2 separate regions of the Homo sapiens genome follow, and region 2 is linked to region 1. The links come from fine-mapping of genetic effects on gene expression. A gene starts in region 1. The other region holds a variant in brackets. All regions are shown on one strand. Distances are from middle to middle.

Region 1 (2,902 bases):
TCTTGTGGGCACATTTTTACTCTAGTTTCATGGGTGGAGATGGCATCTGCCGTGGTCTGCAGCATGCAAGTAAAGACACCAGGTGGCACCATTTATTAGCTTTCAATCCCATGGAGAGGTCCCATCATGTAACTACCAAGAGGTTGAAGGAACCAACTACCTCTTGCATATTGTAGCTAATGGTTCTTGCCTTCTTCTTCCAGACTTGGGAAATAAATTTGAAAATCGTATTTTCTGTTTCATAATATTTGCAGTGCATGGTTGAAGGGAAGAAGGCCACGTGCTATTGCCAGTTGGTCTCCAGGAGGTGACATCCATCATCTCCATGTCAACTTGTGAGCTTTACAAATCTAATTTTCAGTACGTGGCTACAGTATACACAAGAAAATATGTGCTTTGCCACTTGGCTCTAAAGGCTCACCGTTGTACACAAGCAATGAGTTTAGGGGTTCTTCCCTCTTGTTATCACATGTCATCTCCACAGGGTTTCAAAAGATCTGGATAGGGTGAGACAGACACACCAGTGTAGTACTCCCTTGGGTCCCTTGTCTTTGGCTTAGGCTTTTTCATAAGGTATAATAATTTGTTAGAGGTTCTTCCCTCTTGCAGACACATGTCATCTCCACAGGGATTCAAAAGATCTGGATAGGGTGAGACGGACACACCAGTGTACTATTCCCTTGGGACCCAAGTCTCTGGCTTAGGCTTTTTCATAAGGTGATTTCTTGTGGTAGTAGTCAAGTGGAGAATACTCAGGAAATACTATTTCATGTAACATTTCCGTGTATTCCCTCTGCCTCCCCCGACATGAGTTAGAAAACTACCCCTCGATCTAGTATCAGCAAGCTCGACAGTGACCTCAGCAAGGAACAGCCCTAGATAAAAGGATTCATAAGTAAATGGAATGAGGAAAAGATCTGGAGCAACAAAGTCCTGGTCAGCTTTAGGTGAGGAAGCACAATGGGATGTTGGAGGCTAAAGAAGCCATGAAACCTAAAGTATTATAACATAGCATATTCACTTCTCTTTCCCCCGCACGCCCAAAGCTCTGTTCAAGGCCACCCTTTCCCCTTTCATGATGACCAGGTTGCCCAGTGCAAAAATACTGTTCTTAGCTATTAAATTGCATTACTCAGAATAATCCTTTCCACGTTGAGTCTACGTGCCGGACTGGCTGCGAGCAGAAACTACTTCAGTCGCTTTAAATCTCAACACTTGTGGTCGCTGGGAGCAGAGCTTTTAGGCTGTAGCTCAGTCTTGTAATTCTGAGCTAGGAGTTTCAGCTACGGTCCCTCGGGCCTATCAGATGACAACCTTAACACCCTGGAGGCGTGGTTATCGTCTTGGGGCTCTGGGAAGTGCAGTTCCATGGGGGACCAGGCCTGATAATACCATAAAAGGCTTGGTTCTCTCAATTCTGAAGCCATGTTCTGTTGACCTTCCTCTAAAAGCGGTACCCGCAATTGTGCGGATTCCGTGGTTCCCTAGTCCCAAGCCGTCTGCTTCCTGGGCCCTTTCATTGGCTCCGCCCCCGTAAACCTTGCTCGTCCACTCTGGAAGCGCTCTCCTGACTACAGGCCGCGCCCCTCGCGTCGGCTCCGCCCACCCAGCCCGCGGCTTGGCCCAGGCGGTAGTTCGCGTTTTGAGCCGATCGTGCCACCATAGCTCCTGCTGCTGCCTCTACCGCTGCGGCTACCGCGGCGGAGCTGAAATTGCCGAACGCGATGCCCGAGGGCGCTGTGAGCGGGGTGGCCTTAGCTCGCCGAGGCTGGTGAGGCTGGGCCCGAACGGGGGCGCTGACGAGTAGCAGGGGCCTCAGAGGCGGGTGAAAGATAAAGGTCCAGAGCCGCTGTGGAGGGCGGAGAGCGAGCTCTGGAGGATAGGGAGTGGGGGAGGGAGGCTCCCGTGGCAGAACGAGTTGTGGGCTACGGCGAGCCCCGCCGCGTCCCCGCCGGCGCTAGCGCAGGTGTCCAGGCCTGCGGAAATCCCTGGTGGTCTCGGCGGCCTCCTCCCTTGGACACTACAGTTGCCATGGGAACAGTTGGGCATTAACGGGAACCAGATCGTCCACGAGACCAACTGGGGCCCATCCCATCCATCTCGCCAGTTAAACGCCTCTGGCGGGCGTGGGCCTGGCATTTCTTCGTGGCTTAGGATTTTCCCCCCCTTTTTCGTGAGCCTTTCCTTCCGACGTTGTAAGAAACTGTGCAGGGCTAGAAGGTGGGGATGAGGGAAATGGTGAGAGCAATACCCAGAGGTAAAAGCTGCAGACTTCGCTAGGCAGAAGGTAAGACACTGTGATACTAAGGTGGCTTCTGCCATCTCAGGTCAGTGAGAGGGCATACTGGGAAGCCCTCTGGAGTGGGAAGACAGTGCCGCTGTTGAGACAAGACCCAGGACTGGGCCGGGGACTGTCCCAAAGGGTTTCTCGTCATAATGGCTGTGGAAGGGTCAACCATTACCAGCCGGATCAAGAATCTGTTGAGATCTCCATCCATCAAACTGCGCAGGAGTAAGGCAGGAAACCGACGAGAGGACCTCAGCTCCAAGGTGAGTCCTGTTGGGATCCACCTCTTTCCAAACCCACCCTCTCCTGCTCCATGTTCCTCGTTAACCTTCCTGTTTCTTGGGAAAGATAACTAGAAGCCCTTGTTGACTCTAAAGGATCACATATGATCTCTGCAGGCAATGATTTGGTTTTAGGTTGAAGGAAAAAGAGCAGCAGGGGTGGGCATGCTGAGATTCATCCATGAGAAAAGGTGAATAGTAGGAAGACCACCTGGGTTCAATTGTGGCCTCACTATACACTAAGCATGTGCTTGGGAAGCCAGTTGATATGCTATGACTCAGTTTCCCTTCTTGGGAGAGGACAGTAGGAACACATACCTTGTGAAGGGCTAAG
Region 2 (2,902 bases), 75 kb after region 1:
AGGCTGAGGGCTGGGAGCTCCCTTGCGCCTCAGCAGTTTGCAGTGGGGTAAGGAGGCCAAGCCCATTTGTGTAATCACCCAAAACCCCCCGGCCTGTGCCTGTTTTCCCTTCTGCGCTACCTTGAGTAGTTGGAGCACTTGATACATCACAGACTCATACAAATGTGAGGCGCTGAGACCATCTGTTATTACTGCTGAGAAGGGCCATGTCATTCTAGGCTCTTGGCTGTACATGGCAAGGGCTGGTACAGAGCTCGCTCATCAGTGTTCTTCCTCCGAAGAGCACATTCTCTGCACACGTCTGCGTCTACCTGTGCTCAGAGTCACCCCTTCCAAGCAAGGAGGAGGCCACATGGGCCTGGGGTAGCCCTGGCCTTGCCCACCTGCTCTGCCGTAACACGTCTCCTCTTCACCCAGACAGGAATGCAGGGGGAGGCCAGGCAATGGCTGTTTCCTGCCACATGGTAGGACCCATCTAACCAGAAGGAACTGTCTATTCCAGAAGCTGGGCCTGGGGAACTGGGTTGAAGCAGCCACGGGAAGGAGCCCTTTTGCCTGTAGCTGAGTCTTATTCTGGTCCCTTAGATGTGTCCTCGCTTGTGCCCCTGAAGTTTGGTGTTGCACTGGGGTTCACCTCAGGGATCAGACCTGTTGGGAAAACGGAATGAATTTAGTAGGGTATGGCCACCCCAGAATCTTCTCCAAACAAACACACACTGGTGCCCCTGCCCTCCCCTGGACCAGCCAGCCTCCTAGAATAAGCGTGGGAGTGGATTCCAGAGCTGACTGACAGGCGCTGCAGCAGCGACCACAGTGACGCGTGAGTGGGTGGGAGTTGCCTCGACTTTCATAACCCAACTCTACGTCTGTCAGCTGGCCTAGCAGCCCCAGCCCTGGGTTAGAGACAGCAGAAAAAATGGCTGTCCTGGTAGCCTCAGGAGCCACTGTGTCCAGGACAAGGCCTGTCCCGTCAGCAACACATCATCTAAATCATATATTGGGCTCTGCAGGACTGGGAGCAGATGGTTACACTGGAGACCACAGCCGTGGCTGCCACCCCTCATGGTATGAGCCCTCCAGGCACACGGCTGTATATGCGTGTGCACATCTAGGCACATCCTGGCATGGGGCCCATGCACGGAGGATTTGCCTGTCTCCAGTCCCTCCTCCACTTTCACCTAACCTCAGGTGTCCCCTCCCCCTGGAGAGCCTGAAGCCCTCTGGTTTGGAAGGGAAGGAGATGTGGGTGAGGGGGGTTGAGCATCGAAATGATGCTGGGATCTACAAGGAGGGACTGAGGAGCCAGGTAAGAGCCTCCTGCCCC[T/C]GCACATCCACCTTCGCATCTCCTCCCTGGCCTGCAGGCCGGGACATGCTGGACCTCTCCATTGCCATGGAGTGGGGATTGGGGAAAGCAGGGGAGGACCAGGTAGAGAACGGGTTGGAACAAGGGTGGGGCAGGGTCTGGCCGTCCTGCCAATGTGCTGTGCCTTGGAGAGGGGAGAGGAGGGAGGAAAGTGAGGAGTGCATGGGAAACAAACCCAGGCAGGCTCTCAGCACTGGGCAGAGGGAAACCTGGCTGCTCCTCCCACAAGCAGCCGAGCAGGAAGGGCACAGGGAGCCTGGGCAGCTTCGTCTACAGGGTCCCCACACTAGAGCCTGGAGTGAGCCCTGGGAGGGGACCACTGTAGAGTCTGTGGAAATCTGGGCTTTGTGGCCTGGATTCCTCTCAGCTGAGAGTGGGCAGGGGCAGCTGAGGGTTCCAATAGCATTTCCCTACAGCCCAACAGAGTAAGTCTGAGGCCCAGAACCTCAGGCTTCAGAGGACAGCGCCTGCCAGCCACTGAAGCCCAGGGCTCCCCGCCCTGCTTCCCCCACCCAGGTGTCCCACCTGAGTAGACATCCAGGCCGGGCATCCTTGGTCGTGCACTCATTCAGAGAGCTGACAGGTTTGGCTTTGAGTTTTGGGCTCAGACTCTGGGCTGCAGAGCAAGGGAATAACCACTGTTAGCCCGGCCCAGACCATCTGCAGGCGCCAGGTCTGGCTGCTCCTTCCTCCAGCTTCTGGAGGCTCAGCACAGCCTTAGGCAGCCTGGCTATGCCAGGCCCTTCCCACGTGGGGGTGTGGGGCGGGCTGAGCACTTGTGGGCAGGTTTTTCCCCCATGCGTCCTGCCTCTTAGGAAACTCCTCACAGGTGAGTTAAGAAAGGCTGAGCCTTTCTTAGGAGGTGGGAAATTCTGGAATGTCGAACAACTCAAGATCCCTTTGGGCTCCTGGGAAGACAGACTCTTGGGAGGAGAGTCCAGGGGAACCAGCGACAGAGCTAGGATCCCAGACACATTCCCTGAACACACGGTCCACACGGAGCCTCAGCAGAGCACGCTGACCACGGAAGAAAGTCCAAAGGGTTGTCTCTATATATTCCTCCAAGTAGAACCTGGCTTGCTTACTGTCTGCAAAACAACTCAAGGGTGGTGACATTCAAAGTTGTCTGAGGACTAGAAGGTTAGAGAAGCACCCAGATCAGACAGAACAGAGCCTGGAAAGCCCTTGGAGGAACACAGTCCATGAGGATTCTGGCAGGAAGGGCTTGGGGCAGTCTGAGTGGCAGACTCCAAAAGGGGCAGAACAGGACCAGGACACAGCTGGGGGTTCAAAACTGGCCCCATCTCTGCTAATTAGCTGTGTGATCTTGGGCAAGTTGCGTAACCTCTCCAGGACCTAAATTCTTTGAGGAAAAACAGTAAGTCCCACTTCTTGGAGGTTAGAGATGCTAACTGTGAAACCTCCCTAGGATGCATAAAACACTAGGGGCCCAGGAGCTTGGGGCCCAGGGAGTCGGCCGCCCTCCCCGCATCCTTCCCCTGAAGCCCACCTGCAGTGCTGCCCAGGGCTCGCCACCAG

The links. PIP is the estimated chance that this variant, and not a neighbour inherited with it, causes the effect.
Region 2: its variant is fine-mapped to the expression of MAPKBP1 in whole blood (TOPMed, PIP 0.99).

Annotation. Positions count from the first base shown.
Region 1 is chr15:41,772,840-41,775,741 of GRCh38, forward strand. MAPKBP1 (mitogen-activated protein kinase binding protein 1) reads left to right here and starts at 1,645. Exons shown (of 31, transcript NM_014994.3): 1 at 1,645-1,771; 2 at 2,328-2,550. The coding sequence starts at 2,437. RefSeq lists an enhancer at 1,092-1,141.
Region 2 is chr15:41,847,981-41,850,882 of GRCh38, forward strand. JMJD7-PLA2G4B (JMJD7-PLA2G4B readthrough) reads left to right here. Exons shown (of 25, transcript NM_005090.4): 25 at 1-163. It overlaps PLA2G4B (phospholipase A2 group IVB), which reads left to right. Exons shown (of 20, transcript NM_001114633.2): 20 at 1-163. SPTBN5 (spectrin beta, non-erythrocytic 5) reads right to left here. Exons shown (of 68, transcript NM_016642.4): 66 at 2,874-2,902; 67 at 1,889-1,979; 68 at 166-648. The coding sequence ends at 636. Among named protein-coding and RNA genes, the nearest start is that of PLA2G4B, 11 kb to the left of the region's middle. The variant T/C (reference allele first, on the strand shown) is at 1,325.